Regions from separate parts of the Homo sapiens genome. Here region 2 is reported to be linked to region 1. Evidence: microRNA targets listed by miRTarBase, many of them from high-throughput screens and not tested one by one. Region 1 holds a microRNA gene; the other region holds the end of a gene's coding sequence.
What was found. The annotated mature microRNA hsa-miR-1225-3p reads UGAGCCCCUGUGCCGCCCCCAG and lies in region 1 at 1,562-1,583, opposite strand. An mRNA with a match to its seed (bases 2 to 7 or 8) in the 3' UTR can be bound and repressed. Matches are read on the target gene's strand: a 7mer-m8 pairs with bases 2 to 8, a 7mer-A1 pairs with bases 2 to 7 and ends in A, and an 8mer does both.

Region 1 (3,000 bases):
TGGCCTTGGACGGTATTGCCTGTCAGTGAAATAAATAAAGTCCTGACCCCAGTGCACAGACATAGAGGCACAGATTGCAGTCAGACAGCTCTTTTATTGACTTTGTCTGCTTGGTGCGGGGGTTGGGGGGGTGTCGAGGCTCTAGAAGCGGCCATGCCCACAGAAGTGGTACACAGAAGCAGGCACAGCCAGCTCCGAGGGCCTTGAGGCTGCCTGGGCCATACAGCACACTCGCGCGTGCGCGCGCGCACACACACACACACACAGTCACCTTCCTCCACCCTGGGAGCCAGCCCCCAGGAGGAGTCTTTTCCTCTAACCACCCTGGGGTCCTCTGACATGCCTAGTCCTGCTACTTGCCCAGACCTGATGCCAGCAGGCCTGGGCGCTGCTCTCTTGCTACCTGGCCTGGGGCAAGGGAGGATGACAAGGCCTCTGGGGTGATGAGAGTGCCTGGCAGACAGCTGTGCCCCCAGCACCGGCCCAAGGCCAAGCTCGCATCCAAGCAGCAGCCGGGCTGCCATAACGCCACCACACCTACCAAGCGCAGCAGGTGTTGGGGGAGGCCAGCTCTGGGCGCAGGCCCCTCAGCCCTAGTGAAAATAGTGACATACAAAAATATACACATTTTAACACCATATAAATTACTGACACGAGACACACAGTGAGACGGTGCAGGGAGTACGGTAGGAACTGGAGAGGTAATAACTTAGGGGCAGGGTGGCGGCGGTGCAGGCTAACCCTCCCTGAAGCCAGCAGCCTTAGCAGTGGGGGACATCTGCCCAGGGGGTGGGGCCGGGCACAGCCCGCTGTACCTGAGGACTCGGGGAAATAAATTAGCATCTCAGAGGCTAGAAACCGTCCAATACTGCTGTGTCCTTCCCAAGGGAGCTGGGGAGGGGACCCTGGGTCCTGGTTGGCCACACAGCCTCTTTAAAGTGCTGAAGCCCACAGACAGACAGATGCCCCTGCCTGCTCTCTGGGGAACCTACGTGCAGCCATTCTGCCTGGCCCTCGGCCTTGACAGCGGCAGAAAGTAATACTGAGCGGTGTCCACTCCGACTCCACGGCCCACCCCCGCCAGGAAGGAGGACTAAGTGCTGCTGGGGTGGACCTTGTTCTTGGCCCGAAGGGGTGTCCTGCTGGGGCCAGTGGCCAGGTCCACACCCCGACTGGCCCGGGCAAGGCGGCTGGGCAGTGCTGGCCGCAGGCCCGGGGATGGGCCACGGGAAGATCCGGCGGGCGCCCGGCTGCTCCTGCGGCCTTGCAGGCTGTGCAGCTGCTGCTCCAGCTGGTAGACGTCCTCTGTGGCCTGGTTGAGTCGGTCAAACTGGGTGAGCAGGGCCTCGAACACGGCTTGGAGGCGGGAGGGCTCAGGCTCACACCTTGTCCCCAGCCGGCCCAGGCTCACGCTCAGCCCATCCAGCTGGCTGGAGGAGGTGGAGGGGTGCGAGGCATCGGAGCCAGCGCTGGGTGGGGGCACATCCGGGGATACCTTGGAGCCCCTGGAGGAGCGAGAGGGCAGCGGCTCCATCCCTTCAAAGCGGACTTTGTGGCGGAACTGGGGGCGGCACAGGGGCTCAGTCAGTCCGGCTGCACCCTGGGCAGAGCCCAGGGCGTGTCCCTCTCCCCCCCACTGGGCCGTACCCACCTCCTTGACCTTGCTGAGGCCCATCCAGAGGCGCAGCCTGCGCAGGAACAACTCCACCATCTCGTAGTCCTGGGGCTCCCAGGCCGGCCGGTACAGCTCTCCACGCAAGGCGTGGTAGCGCCAGCGGAGAATAACAGCCCCCAGCCGTAGGGCGCCCCACAGCCGCAGTGCCCAGAGCCCCACACACAGCAGGGGTGACAGGTGCCAGGACTCGGCAGGACACAGGGTAGAGAGCCCAGTCCCAGGGCACAGCACCAACAGGGCCTGGGCCACGCTCCAGAGGGAGTCCACACAGGAAGACACGAGCTGCGGGGAAGGCGACACCAGTGAGGGCGTACAGCTGAGCTGAGCTGAGCTAAGACGCCCTCCCCGGCCGCGCAGTCACCTACCAGGATGGCCAGCTGGGCGTAGGCTACCCCGAGCACCACCAGGCCCAAGGTGACCCCCAGGAGCTCTGGCAGAGCTCGGCATAATGTCTTGCCAAAGACGGACCACTGGCGCACGAAGCGTAGCTGCTGGGCAGCCTGCGGACGAGAAATCTGTCTGCTTGCAGCCCTGGGGTGTGCGCCCAGCCCCGCGCCCACCGGCCCAGCCCTCACCTTGACCAAAAGCAGGAAGAGCAGCGAGGCCGCCAGGCCACGGGCTGCGGAGCTCAGCTGCGCCACCTGGTCGAAGCTAGTGAAGCGGCGCGGGCGGCCGCGCACGAAACGGGTCCACTGGCGGTCAGCGGCACCCAGCTGGGCGAGGCGTACCAGTGCCGTGGCCGCCGTCAGCGCCACCAGCAGCCACCGCGCCCAGGCTCCGAGCCGCAGCACGCGCCAGCGCCCTTCCCTGTGCCAAGTACGGGCCTCGGCCACGGCGAAGTGCACGGCGAACAGCAGCAGGCACACCTGTGGGGGGCGCGGTCAGGAGGGCGGGAGGGACGCTGCCGGGGCGGGGCCCTGCGAGGGGGCGGGACGCTGCCGGGGCGGGGCCCTACGAGGGGGCGGGACGCTGCCGGGGCGGGGCCCTGCGAGGGGGCGGGACGCTGCGAGGGGGCGGGGCGCTGCGAGGGGTGAGACGCTGCCGGGGCGGGGCCCCGCGAGGGGGCGGGACGCTGCCGGTGGGAGGCGCGGGGTCTGGCCGGGGACGGGCGTACCGAGGTGAGCAGAGGCAGCGAGAGGCCCGCGCTGAGGCGGCGCAGCGCAAAGGGGCGGACGCTGAGGGCGGCCAGGGCGCGGCCGGCCGCCGGGAACTCGAGGCGCAGCGTGACGGCGGCGTGCAGCCCCACGGCCGGGCTGTAGCGCGTGAGCTCCAGGAACACAGCGCGGCTCCTGCGCAGAGGGTGCGGGTCAGTAGGAGCGGGTGGC
Region 2 (3,125 bases), not on the chromosome of region 1:
AAACCACATTTTTTTAGATCATAAAGCCCAACCAGATTCTGGGGTTAGAAAAACTCAATACTGACTATTGGCCATTGCCTGAAATCTGTCATTCTCTAAGTGTGTGATATGTATATATTTTGTATGTGTGTGCATGTGTATGTGTTAGGTATATGGGAGAGTTTTAATAGGTAGCCTGTGTATGTGGTTTGTGGGATATGTTTACAGGTTAGTCAGGTATATGAAAAGTTGGAATAGAAGCTGTCATGATTGGAAGGGTAATTCTTCTCACAGGGCAGTGACTTTCTACCCTAGATAAATGGATAGGGGAAAAAAACTCTGTTTTCTTAAGCATCCTTTTGGAAACAAAGCTAGAAAACAAAGACCTAGCCAAAAATAAAAAAGTAGGCTTCATATCGTCTTAGGAAAATAAAGCTGAACTAAAATTAAAATATCTCTTTTCAGAAACTGGACTGTCATTCTACCCTTCAGCTTTGCTCAGGCTGGAGCTGGCTCTTCCCCACTCTCCCACACTCTGTGTTCCAAGAATAACCTCAGAGTACTTCACAAGCAGATCCTTCAAGAGCTTGTAATGGTCCAGCAAATACAGTACACATGATCCTTTCATGTGCTTGAATGAAGGAACAATAGCCTCTTGTCATTTTCTCTTTGGGCCTGTGCTCTTTAGATTGTATCAGTAGGGGGAAAATTTTGGAGATTAAGCACTAAAAACTGTCACTTTGCAGACAACATGGGATATATATATATACACACACACACACACACACACACACATACATATATGTGTATATATATGTGTATGTGTGTGTGTGTGTGTATATATATATATATATATATATATATATATATATGTATATTTGAGATTTCAACAAATCCTCATTCTGATTAGCCCAAAGGGCCAATCATTCAAAAGGAACAACCCTGCTCTCATTACTGCAACCTACATAAAGACAAACCCAAAGCTCTTTTAATGTTAATATTAAGAGTTATAAATTTGGCCCAATGTAGGGGGGAAGAGAAGGGGCAGAAACCAACTGCACAGTGGAAGAGCTGCCAAGTAAACATTTTTTCCCCAAAACAAAGTTTAGTAGAAACTTTTCCACTGGAGGACTTTCTCTAGATCAAGCATTTTTAAGTTCAATTAAATAAAATATTTTTTTTAGAAATTGAGATCTACAATATATTTATATCCATAATTCTAAACACCCAAGTCTAAAAGACATAAAAAATAAGTAGCGATGCAGTCACTGAATAGCAAGTCATGTCCGCATTTCAAATAGTTATAAAACATGTGAAGTGATATAACAATAGAAGGTCAAAAATATGAAACAGGTTTAGCATAGTCATATTGCATTGGAAAAAAAAAGGCAGAATTACACTATTTAGTTACCTAAATTAATTTACAGGGAAACGGGATCCTAGAAGTCCTCCGACGAACCAAGTGCAGGTAATCTAAAGGTGGGGAGTGCATGTTTTATTTCTATCTGTTCTCTTTAATAAGAGAATGTGAGGTAATTAGAAAGTATGCAATGCATTCTGGACTGTTCTGCTAGTTGTCCCAGGCAAGACAAATCAAAATGCTTCAGAAAAGAAAGGCCTAGTTGAGTATTTGGGTAGAGGCCCCCCTTCAATCAGCTAGTCACTAAGTGGAAATCTCATTATACACTGATTTTGTAGAGATGGATTGATCACGCTGGAGAAAAGGCTGGTTGCTGAGGTCGTGTCTCTTCCATGTTTCCTCAGCCTCCTCTGCATTTACTGAGTTAGGTCCTCAGAGTGGTGAAGGAAAATAGGTCATTTTCCCTTCATAAGTATCATTGGATGATTCCTCTATATTAATTATATGAACCTTATAATAGTTAAAGATCTTTTTAATTTTTTTTTAAATTTTTTCATCTCAAAGAGTTCTCAGTCCCCACCCCACACGAGGTACCGTGAAGGGGCACTAAAGTGCATTTTGATGTAGGGGGTAGAGCTTAAAGGTGCTGTCCAAGCTAAGAATCAAGATGATGCTGTTTAAAAAAGAAAGGCAATTCCTTCTACCTCCATCTCTGGAGTCAGCTGAGGGAGGGCAGTGAACTAGACTCTCCCCAGAGGATTGTCCTAACTCTTAACTTTAGAGAAAACTGTGTAAGGACCTGCACATATAGAATCATTTATTTGTCCAAAATAGCAAAAATAGGCCTATTTCACCCTTAAGAATTTGCAAATCTGATCAGTCATGATCATAAAAATGTGAATGGATTCCAGATGCAATCCATGTGGGCATGCTCTGTGGAACTAGCTATGCATCTTCAGCTTGAATGAACATGCGGCTGTTCATTTTCATCAAAACATGTCTTCTAAACTACCATAAATAAAATACACATGGAACAATTAAATCTTTTTCTTACAATAATTACTTTTACATTAAAAAGTCATCATTATCTTCAGATATATTGAAAATTAGGACTCTAAATCTTATTATTTCCCAGCCTTAGTTAACAATCTTGCACAGGCCCGATAATCCAAAATTTGGAGCTCTGATCTACACAGATTGGCAGGTTTCACACAGTTTGACAGGTAGGCAACTGTGAGATATGCATTTTAAAATTTAGCTTTTTCTATCAAAACAGTCTGAAATCTTTTAAAATCCCTACAGAGACTGTATTTGTGCAATGCCACAGTCATGTGGCTAGAAAGGAAAAAACAAAATACAGTCTGGAAGATTAACCACCGTCCAAGTTTTCTTGGTCTTCAGTTTAAACAATGATGAGCCCAGGAAATCCAATTAAATACAGTGCCTTAAATAAGAGAAGAGTTGGTCCTAGAATAATTTAAGCTACTAAACAGGGACTGTCTCAACCACGGGTGATTTGATGCACTCTTCATGCAATATGCTCTTTTCTGCAAGGCTCAAAGAATTTTCAGCAGGATGCTCTGAAATGTGACTGTCACCATTCAATGCAGAGACAAACCCTTCTTGGGAGGGGCCTTTCAAGTATGAGTGAAATTCCACTTGAGGGTGATTGGACCTGTGTTCAGGATATAAACTATTGCAGGGCACACCGCTATCATTTTCGGAAGAGGAGCAGCAAACGATTACAGAGGGGTTGGCAGCTGGGTAGTGGGAGGCACCATAGGCC

Region 2: the mRNA of CSRNP3 is a reported target of hsa-miR-1225-3p. Seed matches in the 3' UTR shown: 7mer-A1 at 2,753-2,759.

Annotation. Positions count from the first base shown.
Region 1 is chr16:2,088,634-2,091,633 of GRCh38, forward strand. It overlaps MIR1225 (microRNA 1225), which reads right to left and starts at 1,651; the gene lies at 1,562-1,651. TSC2 (TSC complex subunit 2) reads left to right here. Exons shown (of 42, transcript NM_000548.5): 42 at 1-858. It overlaps PKD1 (polycystin 1, transient receptor potential channel interacting), which reads right to left. Exons shown (of 46, transcript NM_001009944.3): 42 at 2,790-2,964; 43 at 2,251-2,541; 44 at 2,041-2,175; 45 at 1,652-1,957; 46 at 75-1,561. The coding sequence ends at 1,094. PKD1-AS1 (PKD1 antisense RNA 1) reads left to right here and starts at 2,803. Exons shown (of 3, transcript NR_135175.1): 1 at 2,803-2,981.
Region 2 is chr2:165,679,453-165,682,577 of GRCh38, reverse strand. It overlaps CSRNP3 (cysteine and serine rich nuclear protein 3), which reads right to left. Exons shown (of 7, transcript NM_001172173.2): 7 at 1-3,125. The coding sequence ends at 2,825. Among named protein-coding and RNA genes, the nearest start is that of GALNT3, 110 kb to the left of the region's middle.